Linked DNA regions of Homo sapiens: region 1 is linked to region 2. A link means that fine-mapping ties the variant in region 2 to the expression of a gene that starts in the linked region. Tissue or cell type: thyroid. Region 2 holds a variant in brackets; the other region holds the start of a gene. All regions are shown on one strand. Distances are from middle to middle.

Region 1 (8,177 bases), 51 kb before region 2:
AGGGCTGGCCTGGACTGTGAGGGCTGCAGGTTTATTTATTTTCCAGCATATGTTTTGTGATGTCACTCTTTCTCGCCAGAGTGGAGAGTAGAGGGAAAATGAAATCAAAACACTATCACAGAGGAGGGGCCTTAAATCAGAGGAGTGACAGAGGGCTGCGAGTGACGTTGACAAGTGGAGAGCACAGCTGTGTCTAAAGGGCCACCACTCCTGGGGCCCTGCAGAGTGTGGCCCTGGGGGAATGTGGACCTGGCATTATCAGATCTTCCGATTTGTTAAGAGAAGCTAGAAATCTGGCTTTTAATTTTTTTTTTTCAGAGACAGAGTCATGCTGTTGCCTAGGCTGGGGTGCAGCGGTGGGATCATGGCTCACTGCAGCCTCAAACTCCTGGGCTCAAGTGATCCTCCCACCTCAGCCACCTGAGTAGCTGGGACTATAGGCATGCACTACCGCATCTGGCTAGATTTTTATTTTATTTTATTTTATTTTATTTTATTTTTGTAGAGACAGGGGTCTCCCTATGTTGCCCAGGCTGGTCTAAAATGCCTGGCCTCAAGCAATCCTCTTGCCTTGGCCTCCTAAAGTGCTGGGATTACAGGCATGAGCCACTGCTCCTGGCTGCAATCTGACTTTTTATGGGAAATCTCCCAATGATTAAATGATGGCAACTAACAACAACAAAACCACTGTGGGCAAAACAAAATGCTTCTGCAGACTCAATTTGTTTTATGAGCAGGTGGTTTGGAACCCTAGACCCAGAGGGTTATATTGATAAGGGTTCTAGGGTGTCCTTTAGAATCCATTACGATCCTCTAAAGAGTGTGCCCCTAACCTGTGCTGGGCTCTGAGGGCACAACGGGGGTCTGGGGCATGGCCCCTGCCCTCAAGGCTGTATCATAGCTGCCCTCAAGCTAGATGGGTCAAATCAGTTATGCACCCAGAGCCAACTTACAACAAAAGGACTAGGTGCTATAGAGCTCAGAGGAGGGAGAGGTCAGGGAATGGAGGAGGCCATGTGAAAAGGCCTCCTGGAGATTCTGGGCCTTGTGTTGGTTCTCAGACAGGAGGGTAAGACTTAGTACAACCAAAGAAGGTAAGGGGCATCCTGAGCTGGAGGCGTCAGACATTTCAGGATCAGATGGGAAATAAGACAATAAAGAAGGCCGGGCACGGTGATTCACACCTGTAATCCCAGCACTTTGGGAGGCCAAGATGGGATGATCTCTTGAGCCCAGGAGTTCAAGACCAGCCTGGACAACATAGTAAGACCACCATCTCTACAAAAAAAAAAAAAAAAAAAAGAAAGAAAAGAAAAAAAAAATGAGCCAGGCATGGCTACCTGGCAATATAGGCACTACAGGCACCACCATGCCCGCACCTGTAGTGCCAGCTACTTGCAGGCTGAGGCAGGAGGATTGCTTGAGCCTAGGAGTTTGAGGTTACGGTGAGCTGATTGTGCCAGCCTGAGCCACAGGGCAAGACCCAGTCTCTTAAAAAAAAACAAAGAAAGAAAAAAAACATAGCCAAGGAAGGGGTTGGAGTACACTGTGAAAGACCGCGATGCTGGTCTGGGATGTGTACTTGGCTCTGGCTATGACGGCAGGACTCAAAAGTCCATTTCTGGTCCAAAGCTTAATGCCATGAGCCTGAGGTCACTCAATGGACATCTGAAGTCTTCTTCCTGCTTTGCTAGCATCCCCAAACCTCTCCTGTCTGCTGTCCTGCCATCATTTATTCACAGCAGGGCAGGGGCCGTGCCTGTTGTGTTCACTGGTGTCTCCTGCGTGCCTAGAACGATGTCTGGAACAGAGCAAAAATGCTCAAAGAATATCTCCTGCCTACTTAAACTATGAGCCAGTGTTGCCCTAGCCTGGGGCTCAGGACAACTCTGTGGTGCTTATGTTCTTGTGTCGAGAGGGACAATAAACAAACCAACAAGTCGGTGAATAAGATGATTTCAGTGCGTGGCCTGTGTGGCTTGTCTCACTGCACTGTAGCCGTTTGTTTATTTGCGTCTTCTCCTAAGCCTATGAGCTCCGAGGGGGCGGGGCTGGGGTCTGTCTGGTTCTTTGTCTCACTGGTAGCCCCTGAGGCTGGTGCCTGACAAATAGGGAGTAGTTAAAAAAAAAAAAAAAAAAAAGTTTTTGCTGGCTGTGGGCTGTAAGGAACACAAGCTGAAAATGATTTCAACCTACGTGCACCTGTACCCTTTGGAGGCTGCAGAACTTATCATTATCAACCCAGGAGTAATTGCTGATAAGCCCGCGTGTGAATTTCCTTGCAAATAGAGGGGTAGCGGGGGAGTGTTTAACAACAACGCGGATAATCTTAATTAATGACCTGATAACTGTAATTAATTGCATCATATCCAGAGGCCCTCTTTGGAATTTCAGGAGGGAGTACCTAGTGTTTGGCAGCTTTGGAGCTGCAAAGGCAGGGGAATGCTAGGATCTCAGTCTCAGCACTTTGCTGCTCAGTGAGCTTTGCCAAGTTACTCTCAGTTCTGAGCCTCAGTTTTCTCCTAGGGAAAATGGGGCTACATCACTGGGGTGTTGCCGGTCTCAAAGCCGTCAATGCCTGAACCCGCCAGGGTTGTTCTTGGAGGTTTGGCTGCATGGCTGCAAGGTTCCCCATGTTGCCATGGCGGGGGTGGGGGGCAATACGGGGCCGCCAAGACTGGTTGAGGGGCAGGTCATAAGTCTAGGGTTTCCCCTGGGGCCGGTCCAGGATTCTCACCCTTTTGGGGGAACCTCAGGGCAAAATGTTGAAGTGGGGGAGGAGAAGCCAGCACCCTGCGCGCCTGCGGGGTCTCCCCGCGGAGAACCGGGGAAGGAGAACCGGGAGGCGGGAAGTGGGGACCCCGGGGTAGGTGAAGGAGCGAGGAGGTCGCCGTGTGGCCGGGGCCGGGCCCCATCCCCGCGGGCCTCAGTTTCCCCCCTGTACTGTGGGGGGCCGGTGGGCTGCCGGGACCGCTGGGGGCTCGCAGCGGGTCGGGGGAGGCCACGTCTCCCTCGCGGCGCGCTGGGAGCAGGGAGGGGGCGCGGCGGCCGCTGCCCCGGCCACCAGGGGTTAAGCGGTGACCTCAGCCGCGGCGCCCCGGGACCGGGCGGGCGGGGGCGGCGCCGCGTCGCGCACGGCGGCGGCGGCGGGACCAGGCCTCGGAGCGCGGCGGGCGCGGGCGCAGTCCCGGCGGGCCCGGACCTCGCGGGCGGGCGGGCGGCGCGGCCATTGGCTCGGGTGGCGGCGGCTGCGGCGGTGGGGGCGCCGTCCCGGCCATGGGCGCCCGCGGCGGCCTGCGGAGCTGGAGGCGCGGCGCCGGCCGCCAGGCGCCTTTGTGAGCGGCGCGGACGACAAAGGCGCGGGCCCGGGCAGCCGAGGTGGGTGAGTGAGCGCGGGGGCCCTGCCTCCGCGGGATCCTCGCGTGTGCCGGAGTCTGCGAGTGCGCGGGAGGCGCTCCAGGCGCCAGGGTCCTCCGGGTGTCCTGGGCGTGTCGCCGTGGGCGGGCGGGGGCCGTGTCCGCCGCTGTGTCCCTGTGTCTGGGTGTGAGAGCCCCGAGCCCGCGTCTCCCCTCTGTGTGGGTCTCTCCTTGTGTCACTGGAGTTCTGGTGTTACTAGGGCGAGTGGCCTTTGTGCTTCAGCTTGTGTGTGTGTGTGGCCTCCAGCCGGCTGGAGTCAGGACAGTTTGGGAACCCCCACCCCCACCCTGTGCCTCACTTTCCCCTGTGGTCCACTTCTTCCTGCGCTGACCTTGGGGGTCCCTGGGATCGGGTGAAGTCAGGGAGTGCCCCTGTCGCCTCTGTGGTGAGTCAGCCTCTCCCACCCTGGACCCCCGCCCAGAGGCGGAACGGGACGGCCTCCTGCAGGAGGAGACTGTGGGAGGAGAGGATGCCGGGTCAGCCGGAGGCCGTGGCTGCGGAGCCGCCAGTCCCGGATCCTCCCTGGAACAGGGATATATGTCAGGGAGGGCCCTAGATGAAGACCAGCCCCCCTGGAGTCGCTGGGATGGCCTCCGAGAGGGAGAGCAGGCCTGACTGTAGGGGGCATGGGGACAATTCTTCCTCCCTCTGCCAAAGCGGGGCCCTGGGGCGGGGGTCTCGAATCTTCCTTTGGCCCTGAAAGCCAGGAGGCCCTGCGTTGCATCAGTGCCAAGTAGAGAGGTGGTGGCTGGTGGGCTGCACTTTCCCACTGGCTTTGGAGCTCAGTTTCTGCCCCAGAGTCCTTGGCCTCCCTTAAGGATGCTACTGGGAAGCCACGCCCCACCTGCCGGGAGCCCCATCTGCTCCTCCTCGGGTTCTGGGGAGAGAGGGCAGGTTGTGCGGGCTCATTAGAATGCATAGCTCTTCCCAGCATCCGCCCAGCACTGTGCCCCCCACGGTGTTCAGGCCCTGGACACACAGACTAGAAAGCAGGTCAGCCTCCGGAAATCTCCAAGCTCCCTGTGACTGTGGGCTGGGGACTGCCCTTCCCCTTCATCGGGCCCTCAGGCTGAAGCTCAGAACCCTCCTGTAAGGAAGGCTTCCTGGGGTGCCCGAATCTGATGCTCGCTCTGTCCCCAGGCGCTTGCCTTCCTGAGGCCCCCTGTCCCTTCCCCTTCCACCAAAGAGCCTCTGTGGGCTGTTCTCTCTATCCAGGAAGTGGGTCCCATCCTTCACCTCTTTCATTTCTCACTCGGGAGCTACTTCCTCTCCAGTGAGCCAGGGTAGCCACAGTGCTCTGAGGGTTCCTGCCCCAGTTGTGGGGGCGGGGGGCTTTTTTCAGTCTTCCAGTGGAACAGGGGCCATGTCTGTCCTTGATCACAGCTCAGAACAGTGCCTGGTGCATAGTGGGTGCTCTACACATAGTTGCTGAATAAATGAATGTCCAATAACTAATGGTTCCCAAATTCTGTTTCAAGTTTTAACTCTGGAGTAGTCTGGGGAGGGGCGAAAGCTGGTGTACTGCTCTGGGGCCCAGGTACCAGGTTAGTATAAGAGGAGGTTGGGTGTGGTGGCTCACCCTTGTAATCCCAGCACTTTGGGAGGCCAAGTTGGGTGGATCACTTGAGGTCAGGAGTTCGGGATCAGCTTGGCCAACATGGTGAAACCCTGTCTTTACTAAAAATGCAAAAATTATGGCCAGGCTCAGTAGCTCATGTCTGTAATCCCAGCACTTTGGGAGGCTGAGGTGGGCGGATTACCTGAGGTCAGGAGTTCAGGACTAGCCTGGCCAACATGGTGAAACCCCATCTCTACTAAAAATATAAAATTAGCTGGGCATAGTGGCACATGCCTGTAGTCCCAGCTACTCGGGAGGCTGAAGCAGGAGAATCGCTTGAACCCGGGAAGTGCAGGTTGCAGTGAGCCAAGATCGCACCATTGCACTCCAGCTTGGGTGACAAGAGTGAAACTCCATTTCAAAACAAAAACGAAAACAGAAATTAGCTGGGTGTGGTGGTGCACGTCTGTAATCCCAGCTATTTGGGAGGCTGAGGTGGGAGGGTCGCTTGAACCCGGGAGGCGGAGGTTACAGTGAACCAAGATTGTGCCACTGCACTCCAGCCTGGGTAACAGAATGAGATTCTATCTCAAAAGAAAAAAAGAAAAGAAAAGAAGAAGATTGAGCATGGTGGCTCATGCTTGTAATCCCAGCACTTTAGGAGCCTCAGGTGGGAGGATCACTTGAGCGCAGGTGTTCGGGACCAGCCTGGGCAACACAAGAGAACATGTCTCTACAAAAAATTTTAAAAATTAGTTGGATGTGCTGGTGCACGCCTGTAGTCCCAGCTACTCAGGAGGCTGAGATGGGAGGATCACTTGAGCCTGGAAGTTCGAGGCTGCAGTGAGCTGTGATTGTGCCACCGTACTACAGCTTAAGTGACAGAGGGAGACCCTGTCTTAATTATATATATGAGAAAAGTGTACTGTTACTTGGGGAAATAGTATATTAATTAACAGACATTTATAGTATATGCTGAGTGCCAGGTGTTGGGCTAGATGCTTTAAGCATGTACCTCTTACACACTGAGAAGGAACAGAGTGGAAAGAATACATGTAATCTTCTATGATTAATTTTGAAAAGATAAAGTAAATGATATATATGCCATGATAAGATAATAACGTGGATTTATATTGTACTTTCATATCTGCTATCTCTTTGTTTTGACAACACCCTAGTAGTTAGGCAGGGAGATGGGTTCATATCCATCTTACAGATGAGGAAGCTGAGCATACAGCATTTAAGTGACTGTCGAAGGTCACTGCTGAAGCGAGTCAGCGAAGGCGCCAGCACTCAGCCTGGGACTCCCTGGCCACTCAGTCCTTGCTTTCTTCTGCACAACTGTCTCCAGTGCCTTTTGTATTCCTGTCACCCGGCTAGACAAGGGTGAATGGGCCACTGTTCTTGCCCTCAAGGGGTCTAAAGTCCAGGAGAGAATCAGGCTCTTTAACAACTGAGTGTGCCAGAGTTGTTCCGCCCCATGGTGCCACCTTGGGCCCAGCTCAGCTCCTTCCTTGCAGTGTCCCAGAGAGTTCTTCTTCTCTCTACCTCAGTGGAGGGCATCAGAGCCATTTTCATTCAGGACCCTGGTCTGATGACATTCCCAGGAGTGACTGGTCCTTACAGAGCCTCTGCCGGGTCCTGGGCAGTGGTGAGTTGGGAGCCAGCTCACACCTACACATAAGAGCTGATTGCTAAATTTTAGGAATTTTATGAGCCGGTTGTTAAACACAACCATTATAAAAAATTCTGAGGCCAGGAGCGATGGCTCATGCGTGTAATCCCAGCACTTTGGGAGGCCAAGGCAGGCAGATCCCCTGAGGTCGGGAGTTCGAGACTAGCCTGGCCAACATGGTGAAACCCCATCTCTACTAAAAATACAAAAATTAGCTGGGTGTGGTGGCCCATGCCTGTAATCCCAGCTACTCGGGAGTCTGAGGCAGGAGAATTGCTGGAACCCAGGAGGCGGAGGTTGCAGTGAGCCGAGGTTGTGCCATTGTACTCCAGCCTGGGGGACAAGAGTAAAACTCCGTCTCAAAAAAAAAAATTTTTTTTGAGTGTATACATTCATCATTAAGTAAATTATATATATATAGTTTGTTTGTTTGTTTGTTTTTTGAGATGGAGTCTCACTCTTTTGCCCAGGCTGGAGTGAAATGGTACAATCTTAGCTCACTGCAACCACCGCCCCCTGGTTTCAAGTGATTCTCCTGCCTCAGCCCCCTCAGTAGCTGGAATTACAGGTGCCTGCCACCACGCCCAGCTAATTTTTGTATTTTTAGTAGAGACGGGGTTTTACCATGTTGGCCAGGCTGGTCTCAAACTCCTGACCTCAGGTGATCCACCTGCCTCAGCCTCCCAAAGTGCTGGGATTACAGGCATGAGCCACCGCGCCTGGCTGCTATTATATATTTTTGAGATGGAGTTTCACTCTTGTTGCTCAGGCTGGAATGCAGTGGCGTGATCTCTGCTCACTGCAACCTCCACCTCCTGGGTTCAAGTGATTCTCCTGCCTCAGCCTCTGGGATTACAGTAGCTGGGATTACAGGTGCCTGCCACCACACCTGGCTAATTTTTTGTATTTTAGTAGAGATGGGGTTTCACTATGTTGGCCAGGCTGGTCTTGAACTGCTGACCTCAGGTGGTCCACCTGCCTCAGCCTCTCAAAGTGCTGGAATTACAATTATGAGCCACTGTGACTGGCCATAAATTTTATACATATATATGTGTGTATATATATATATAATAATTTTTTTTTTGAGATGGAGTTTTGGCTCTTGTTGCTCAGGCTGGAGTGCAATGGCATGATCTCGGCTCACTACAACCTCTGCCTCCCACGCACGTTCAAGCGATTCTCATGCCTCAGCCTCCCGAGTAGCTGGGACTACAGGCGTGCACCACTACTCCCGGCTAATTTTTGTATTTTTAGTAGAGACGGGGTTTCACCATGTGGGCCAGGCTGGTCTCAAACTCCTGACCTCAGGTGATCTGCCCACCTCAGCCTCCCAAAGTGCTGGGATTACAGGCGTGAGCCACCATGCCCAGCCTGTAAATTATATTTTATAAAGTAATAAATACTCAATTTTTTTCCTAATTATTTTATTCTATTATTACCTGTGCTTTTGTGGTTATTTGCTGCTTTGTGTGTGTGTGCGTTGGGGAGTGTATTAGTTCTTTTTCATACTGCTATTTTCATACTGCT
Region 2 (8,177 bases):
CTGCAGTCTGTGGCTTCCCTGGTGAATTGGAAATTCCTAGCATTCCTGCAACATCTGGCGCACTTTGGCACATTGTAAATGGAAGTGGTTGGCCTGAGTTTTGCTTTGGAGACAGTTGCTGCCCAGAGCTTGTGTCTCTGAAGTCCTCCCTGCAGCTTCTCCTAAAGAATCCACACCAGCCAGAAGAGCAGCCTCCCAGAGGTTCCCTCTCCTGTCTGCCTTGGGGAGCTGGCAACCCTGGGGGGCAGGAGGGCCCTGATAAGCTGGTGTTAAATGGCAGCTTCTGGGCTCTTAGAGTCTGTTATCTGAGAGAGAGAATCTGGGGACTGGACCAGCTGGAACTTCCTGCAGGCTTGGGGACAGCGGGCTCCTGGAGCAGCTGGGGGTGGAGGGCAGGCCCAGAGCAGGCAGGGTGGCTGCCACGGGTTCTGGCTGGAGTTGGGAAGTGGGCCACGGGGTGGGTGGGGGTGGTGCAGGCCAGGTAGGGGAGCTGATGACTGAGCCAGGGCTGGGGGAGGGAGGCGGGGCTCAGCAGGCACCCAGACTGGCCAGGCCCTGTCTGCGGCGCCCCTGGGGAGGCTGGGAAAGGGGCGGGGAAGGCCTGAGTGCCTGGGGCCAGCCTCTGGCCTGACAGGCTCTCTGTCTGCTCTTCTTTTGCAGACCCAGACCCAGCAGCTGCTCCACCCGGCACAGGGTAAGTGAACCTTGCTCCTTTGCTTTGGCGGTTGGAAACAGGGAGACACCGGGCAGTGGGTGGGGATGGGGTGGAGCTGAGGCCCAGAGGACCCGACTGGTCTTTGGCTAAGGAGGAAAGCATTTCACTGAGGCCCTGTGCCCTGGGGGAAGAGGTCAGTTCCAGAAACTCATGGTACTTTTTCCTTTATTTTGCCCACAAACCTCTGAAACCGCAGGAGGCAGGCCTGGCTCCAAACCCTACCTCTGTGGCCTTGGAGGAGTCACAGAAACTCTCCAAGTGTCAGTCTGTTTGCGGCTGAAGGGGAAACAATGAGAGCACCCCCTCTGTTGGGTTTGTCTTGGAGAAGCAAACAGCTGGAGGGTCCCCAGTGTGTGTGTGTGTGTGTGTGTGTGTGTGTGTGTGTGTGTGTGTGTGTGTAGTGGGGGAGGTTGGGGGGGTTTGAGGGTGGGGGGGGTGCAGCCCATTGTAATTATTTTTGCAGTTGCCATTTGTCTTGTTAATATCATTCCCATTCCTATGACAGTTGCTATTAGGGACCCTGCCCTCTGTGCCTGGGAGCCTGTCAGAGGCAGTGTAGCCTAGTGGTTAGGAGCCTGGATGTTGGGGTGAGGGCCTGCGTCTTGGCTGTGGCCCCCACACTGGCCACAGGTCCTCATGTCAGTCAAGTCCCCCTTTGGTTTTCTCATCTGTAAAATGGGCTATCGGGTAAGATGCCCAGCCTCGTGGTAGGTGCCTAATCAAGGCATTTGCTTTTTATCACAGTTCTTCTTTGTCTTCTGCAAGTCAGGTCTGGGTTGGAAGGGTAATTGGGTAACTGGAGGTGGTGGGAGCTGAGGCCTCTCAGGACCAGGTGTTTAGAGCCTCCTTGCCTAAGCAGTGGAGGGGTCTAGGCTCCAAATGAATGGCCCAAGCATCTGGAACCCTGAGTTTAAATCCTCACTACCCTGGTGAGGGGAGGCATGTCTGAGCCCTGCTTTGTCTTCCTGGGGTGCCCCAAACTGAGCAAGAGGGGCTAATTCTCAGGGTGGTGTCACCCAACGGGAGGTTTCAGAGATGCAGGTTGCAGGCCCAGGCCCCCAGAGGAGAAGTCCTTCATGTGCTCATTTGCTGTCCAGAGTGGGTGGACTTGGGGAGGGTTTCTCCTGAGCTTGCTACTATGTAATTAAGGTGAGAATTAGAGGCCAGCCTCTCCTTCCTGATTAGGGACCTGAAATGAATCAGCAGCCATTCGTCCTGCACCTGGGCTGGGAAGGGCCGTGATGGCTGCAGTCTTCCAAGGGTTTATATCTCCAGGGTGGGCCAGGGGTGAAGTTGTGGAGAAACTCAGTCTGGTGGGAGATGCAGATGCGTCAGAGTGGGACAGAGACGGACGCCCAGGGAGCTGGGACACTGACTGGAGGGGAGCAAGGATGGGGTCGTCAGGGAAGACTTCTGGGCCAGGTCCTGGCTCAGCGAGTGAATGGAAATTCTCCATTCAGGATGGCAGAGGGGCAGGGGGAGTGCCTGCTGAGGAAGCCCCTGAGCAGAGGTACAGGGCTGGCACACAGGGTGGTCAGCACACTCACTTCCTTCAAGCTACCCTCTTGGAGACCCCAGGAGTTAGGTGATGTGCTCAGGGTTCCATGTAGATAAGTAGATGCTCATTCAGAAGAGAGACCAAGGCCCCTCTGACACCGAGGCCAGGCGCTGGGCCACCGTGCTTCTCTGCCTCCAGGAGCTCATGCGCTGGTCCCTGATGAGAGGGTGTGGCTGGCTTCATAGGAATGATCTGATTGTGTGTACATTTTTTGAGGAAAGATTTTTGCCCACTCAGAGATGATCTCTGAGCTCTTGGGAGAGTGGCGTCTAAGCAGTCGGTGGAATGTTCCATAGGTCCCTCCCGGGGAGGCTTGTGCGGCAGTGCCTGGTGTGTGATTCCTGGTGAGGTCCCTTCCCTTGACATGAGAGCAGAGCAAAAAGAGCCGGCTCTTCGCTCCCCCAACACAGAGATCTTGTGAGGGCGGAGGGGTGTGCAGGTGTGTCTCTCCACCAGCAGTTGCCTCTATGGGGACAGGGACTTTTTGATTTTTTGGAGGGGGATGTTTTGTTTGCTGCCAAACCTCATGGCTTAAGTGGCAGGCACGGGGTGAGTGCCAAAGACGTCCTTGGTGAACGAATGATGGACAGAAGGACAAGGAGGGTCTGTGTTCCATGGAAGCAAGGAGAAAGCAAACAGCATGTCAGACCTGGTGAAGTGGCTCACGCCTGTAATCCCAGCACTTTGGGAAGTCAAGGTGGGTGGACCACTGAGGTCAGGAGTTCAAGACCCAGCCTGGCCAACATGGTGAAACCCCGTCTCTACAGAAAATACAAAAATTAGCCGGTCCTGGTGAACGGTGCCTGTAATTCCAGCTACTGGGGAGGCTGAGGCAGGAGAATCGCTTGAACCTGGGAGGTGGAGGTTGTAGTGAGGCGAGATTGCGCCATTTCACTCCAGCCTGTGTGACAAAGCGATACTCTGTCTCAAAAACAAACAAACAAAGAAACAAAACCAACCAAAGAATACCACCCCACCCCTCTACCCCCAAATGAATGGCATGTCAATAGGGTTTCTATTGGATTCTGACTCTGGCAGCTGTAGAGGCCAAGACAGAGGCCAGGGAAGGGAAGCGCAGAGTGGTTGTGTGGCCCAAGGCCACATGGCTAGAGCCACCTGACCTCACTGGTGCTGATGGTGCTGTGCTGAGCCACAGGCTGTGCTAAGTGCTCTGTGTACATTATCTCTTTTTGTTGTTGTTTGAAACAGGGTCTCACTCTGTTGCCCAGGCTGGAGTGCAGTGGTGTGATCATGGCTCACTGCATCCTTGACCTTCCAGGCTTGAGCGATTCTCCTGCCTTAGCCTCCCGAGTAGCTGGGACTACAGGCATGTGCCATCATGCCTGGCTATTTTTTTTTTTTTTTTTTTTCTGAGACAGTTTTGCTCTTGTTGCCCAGGCTGGAGTGTGGTGGCGCCATCTCGGCTCACTGCAACCTTTGCCTCCTGGGTTCAAGTGATTCTCCTGCCCAGCCTCCTGAGTAGCTGGGATTACAGGTGTGTGCCACCACGCCGAACTAATTTTTTGTATTTTTAGTAGAGATGGGGTTTCATCATGTTGGCCAGGCTGGTCTTGAGCTCCTGACCTCAGGTGATCCACCCACCTCGGCCTCCCAAAGTGCAGGGATTATAGGCGTGAGCCACCGCGCCTGGCCTAACTTTCATATTTTTTGTAGAGATGGAGATCTCACTCTGTTGCCCAGGCTGGTCTTGAACTCTTGGCTCAAGCAATCCTCCTGCCTTGGTGTCCCAAAGTGCTGGGATTACAGGCATGAACCACTGCATCTGGCCTGTATTATCTTATTACTTGTACCCCTAGGAGCCCTAGAAGACAGGTACTATTGAATATGCCCATTTTGCAGATGAGCAGCTGAGGCTTAGAGAACTGAAGTAATTTACCCAAATCTCATGGAGCTAGTAAATGGCAGGGCTGGGACTAGGCCTGTCTGCCCTCAAAGCTGTCTACTGAGGCCCACAGGGTTTGCTTCTCCTGGTGGACTCTGAAGCACGTGCACTCATGTCCACCCTGAGCTCTCGCTGGGGGAGTC[G/A]TGGTTGAAAGAGCAGCCCTGAGTACCCAGCAGTGCCTGGGAAACGTGAGCGCCACAGATCGCTGGCTTCCTGTGTTTTTCCTGGACTCAGGCCTGCACCCCTCACCTCTGAGTGCAATAGCCCCATGGACTCTGGCCCCCTCTGGAGTTGTTTGCTTTTCCTGTTTAGTTTTGCCTTTATCCCCCTGTGACCTCAGCACTTTTCTGTGGGTCAGGGTTTTGGCTCCTGGCCCTGGTCGCAGGGATTCTCATGGGCTCCCTGAAGGTACCTGGCCTACCCCTTCCTGGGCTTTTCTGGATAAGATGGTTGTACTGCCTGTTGGCTAGTGTCTCTCATTGGGGCCTGGAGCCAGGGGAAGTGATGGGGCAGCCGTATTCTGGGAGAGGACAGGGAGACTCATCTTCCCTGGATGTATCAGGGGCTGAGAGGATCAGGGCAAGAGGAGACCAGGCTCAGCAAAGCAGTATTGGCACAGGATGGAAACAGGGCGCTGGTGGCCTGTGGCTTCTGAGACTGCTAGGTGTGGGGGACATAGGGGCTCATGGGAAGGGCAGGTCAGCAAGGCCGGAGTGGGTCCGCAGCGTCTGGAGGAAATCTTCAAGATTTCCCAGATTGCCGCAGACCTAGTCTGGAGTTGTTTGGAATCCTGGGCTTCTCCTTACATGTGCTGTTTCCCAAATCCGGAACATTTGAGCCTCCTGCGTCCTGTCCCGCAGGGTCCATGCGGGACGTGAGGCATGGCAGATACCGGCTCTCCGCCCATGGAGTCCCCCATGGGAGGGTTATGGGGACCAGGTCTTTCTTTCCATTAAAAATCTTTCTTTAAAGGTCCCTTGCCAAATCCATAAATTGGACAAGCTGGTTTTTGTGTTTTCTTTCCTTCTTTTCCTTCTCCGAGGGTAGAAACAAGGGCTCCCAGTTTCCAATCAGAGCCAGGACCTTTGGATCCCAGGCCCTTTGAGGACCCCCACAGCCTCTTCATTGAAGAAGGCACTTGCAGGGTACCTGGTTGGCACATCTCTTCATGGTATAAATATGCCTTCAAGGAATCCTGTGACGTTCCTCCCTGCATCCCTGCAGCGGTGGGACTCTGCCTCACTCGTTTTTTATCCCAGTGCCTGGCAGAGATGGTGCAACAATACTAACAGCCTACACGTGCACGGACTTTACAGTTTACATCTCATTTTGATTCTCACAACTGTGGGAGGCAGAATCATGGCCCTTCCACCCCTTGGAGATTTCCGTGTCTTCATCCCCAGCACCTGTGAATCTGTGACGCTGCGTGGCAAAGGGACTTGGCAGATGTGATTAAGTGAGGGGTTTTGAGATGGGGAGATGACCCTGGGTTATCTGTGGGCCCAGTGGCACCACAAGGGTTGTGACAAGAGGGAGACAGGAGGGCCAGAGTCAGAAAGAGGTGGGAAGATGCCACGCTCCTGGCCTTGGAAATGGAGGACGGGATTGTGACCAAGGAATGCAGGTGGCTTCTCGAGGCTGGAAAAGGTGGGGGATGGCTTCTCCCCTGGAGCTGCCCCTGCTGAAACCTCGCTTTTAGTGAGAGCACAGCCCTGCCGAAACCTCGCTTTTAGCCCTGCGAACCCCTTGATGGCCTTCTGACCTCCACACCTGTGAGAACAGATTTGTGTTGTAAGTCACTAAGTTCGTGGTCATCTGTTACAGCAGCCATAGGAAACTAACACGACAGCCCTGGAAAGAGGAAATTATCGTGGGCACCATTTTGCAGACCAGACCTGGGAGAGAGCGTCACTTGTCTGTGGGGCTGGGCTGGCAGGCATGGTGCTTGGGCTCAAAGCCTCAGGCCAGGGGCTCTGTTTGCCCTTTCTCTATGGCCCTCTCTGTGCATCTAGGATGGTGCTCTGCTGACTGGCCGGTATTCCCCTGCCCTTCCCTTGCGTCTTCCTGTCCTTTCACCCAGCACCTCTTTACTGAGTGACTGCGATGGGGGCTGACATGCTCTGCCAGGCCATGTTATTTTTATGTGCCTGTGTGTGTGTTTGGCTCTAGGGCCAGATCATAATGGCCTGAATGTACCCAGCACTTCTTACATGCTGCGCTCTGAGAGCTTTCCCTCCCCAGTGCCATTCATCCTTGCAACACTCTCACAGGACAGGCGCTGATACAATCTGCATTCTAGAGATGTGGGAACTGGCACAGAGAGGACATGACATCAGCCCAAGGTCACAGAGAAAGATGAGCAGAGCCAGAGTTAACCCCAGCTGGCTTCCAGAACCTGTGTTCTAATCCCTCTGGTGCAACCGTCTCCCACACAGAGCTGGTTTGGATCCCGCCTGCCCTACATGTTAGCTGCATGACCCAGGACATGCTCTTTGGCTTCTCTGCCTAACCCTCAGTTTCTTTTCTTTTCTTTCTTTTGAGATGGAGTCTCTGTCGCCCAGGCTGGAGTGCAGTGGCGTGATCTTGGCTCACTCCAACCTCTGCTCTGCCCCCTGGGTTCAAGTGATTCTTCTGCCTCGGCCTCCCGAGTAGCTGGGATTACAGGCACCCGCCACCATGCCCGGCTAATTTTTTTCTATTTTTAGTAGAAACGGGGTCTCACCATGTTGGCCAGGCTGGTTTCAAACTCCTGACCTCAAGTGATCTGCCTGCCTTGGCTTCCCAAAGTGCTAGGATTATAGGTGTGAGCCACCATACCCGGCCCCCTCAGTTGCTAATCTCTGTAAAGCAGGGTGATGAGACTCACCGGATGGCACTGTTGGTGGGGATGAAATGAGATGGGAGAGATTAGGTGCTTACTCGGTGAGCTGCTCATTGTCACTGTCTCCAAAGGGTGTGGAGCTGTCTGGGGCTGACTCCAGGCACAAGGGACCCCTCCCTGGCCTGTGCATTGCTTAGCATTACCTGAGATGCTCTTCAGTCCATCCCTCCTCCCTACCTCCTCCTCTCTCTTCCTTTTTAAAAAAAATACAGTTTGTTGTAGAAAAATTAGAAAGTACAGAAAATGATAGACTAAAAGCAACTTTTAATCCTACCATGATGTGTTTCTGTCCAGCTTCTTTGCTAGGCATGTATGCAAGTATGCATGATTGTTTTTATAGAACTGTGGTTTATTGCACATGCTGTTTCGTGGCTCACCTTTTTTTTTTTTTTTTTTTTTTTTTAAAGCTAATTACATATCATGAGCATTTCCCCAGGGGAACTTGTATTGTTTTGCAACAACCCACATGGCTCTCGATACATTTTTGCCAGGGGTGCAGGGCCTCTCCATGTCTGACCAAGCCCTGGGGCCCCTGAGATGTCAGGGAGGGAGGTGCATTGCCACAGAGCAGGAGGCCAGAGGCTGGGCTTTGGCCCAGCATGTGTGTGGGGGGCCACCTGTACAGAGATGGCTCCCCAGAGGCCTCGACGCTCACTCCCTGCTGAGGTCTGTGATATGATGCCACCTGAGGGCCGCTCTGAGACTTCCCCTGGGGGGCTTCTCACTGCTCTCTACTCATCCAGTAAGGGGATCTGTGACCATGTGTGGGGTGGCACAGGAGAGACACACGGGGTCCTGGAAGCCCTCTGTGCACAGGATGGGCGGCCACAGAGGGAAGAGGGAACACATGCAGGTGAGGCCCCCGTGCCTGGAGGAGAGGCGGAGGGAAGGAGGGGGCGGGGAAGCAGCACACACGAGGCCATACCACGTGCCAGCCCCTGTGCCAGAGGATTTACATGCCTTCTTTATTTACTCCGTACCAGAACCCTGCGAGGGAGGTAGTGTTGCCTCATTTTACAGATATGGAAACTGAGGCACGGAGAAATGCTAAGTGCTTTATCTGCATCATCTCACTGAATCCTCACAGCTGGAAGTAGGACTGATACTTCACCCTGGTCCA

Direction of the effects. Positions count from the first base shown, and alleles are read on the strand shown. Sizes are in standard deviations (SD) of each study's normalised expression.
For the expression in thyroid of the gene that starts at base 3,126 in region 1, G is the low allele of the variant in region 2 and A is the other (small effect, 0.31 SD a copy in GTEx).

The links. PIP is the estimated chance that this variant, and not a neighbour inherited with it, causes the effect.
Region 1: it holds the start of ARHGEF10L, and the variant in region 2 is fine-mapped to the expression of ARHGEF10L in thyroid (GTEx, PIP above 0.99).

Annotation. Positions count from the first base shown.
Region 1 is chr1:17,536,573-17,544,749 of GRCh38, forward strand. ARHGEF10L (Rho guanine nucleotide exchange factor 10 like) reads left to right here and starts at 3,126. Exons shown (of 29, transcript NM_018125.4): 1 at 3,126-3,378. RefSeq lists an enhancer at 217-266.
Region 2 is chr1:17,587,786-17,595,962 of GRCh38, forward strand. It overlaps ARHGEF10L (Rho guanine nucleotide exchange factor 10 like), which reads left to right. Exons shown (of 29, transcript NM_018125.4): 4 at 661-694. Among named protein-coding and RNA genes, the nearest start is that of ARHGEF10L, 52 kb to the left of the region's middle. RefSeq lists enhancers at 987-1,552, 2,119-2,684. The variant G/A (reference allele first, on the strand shown) is at 4,320.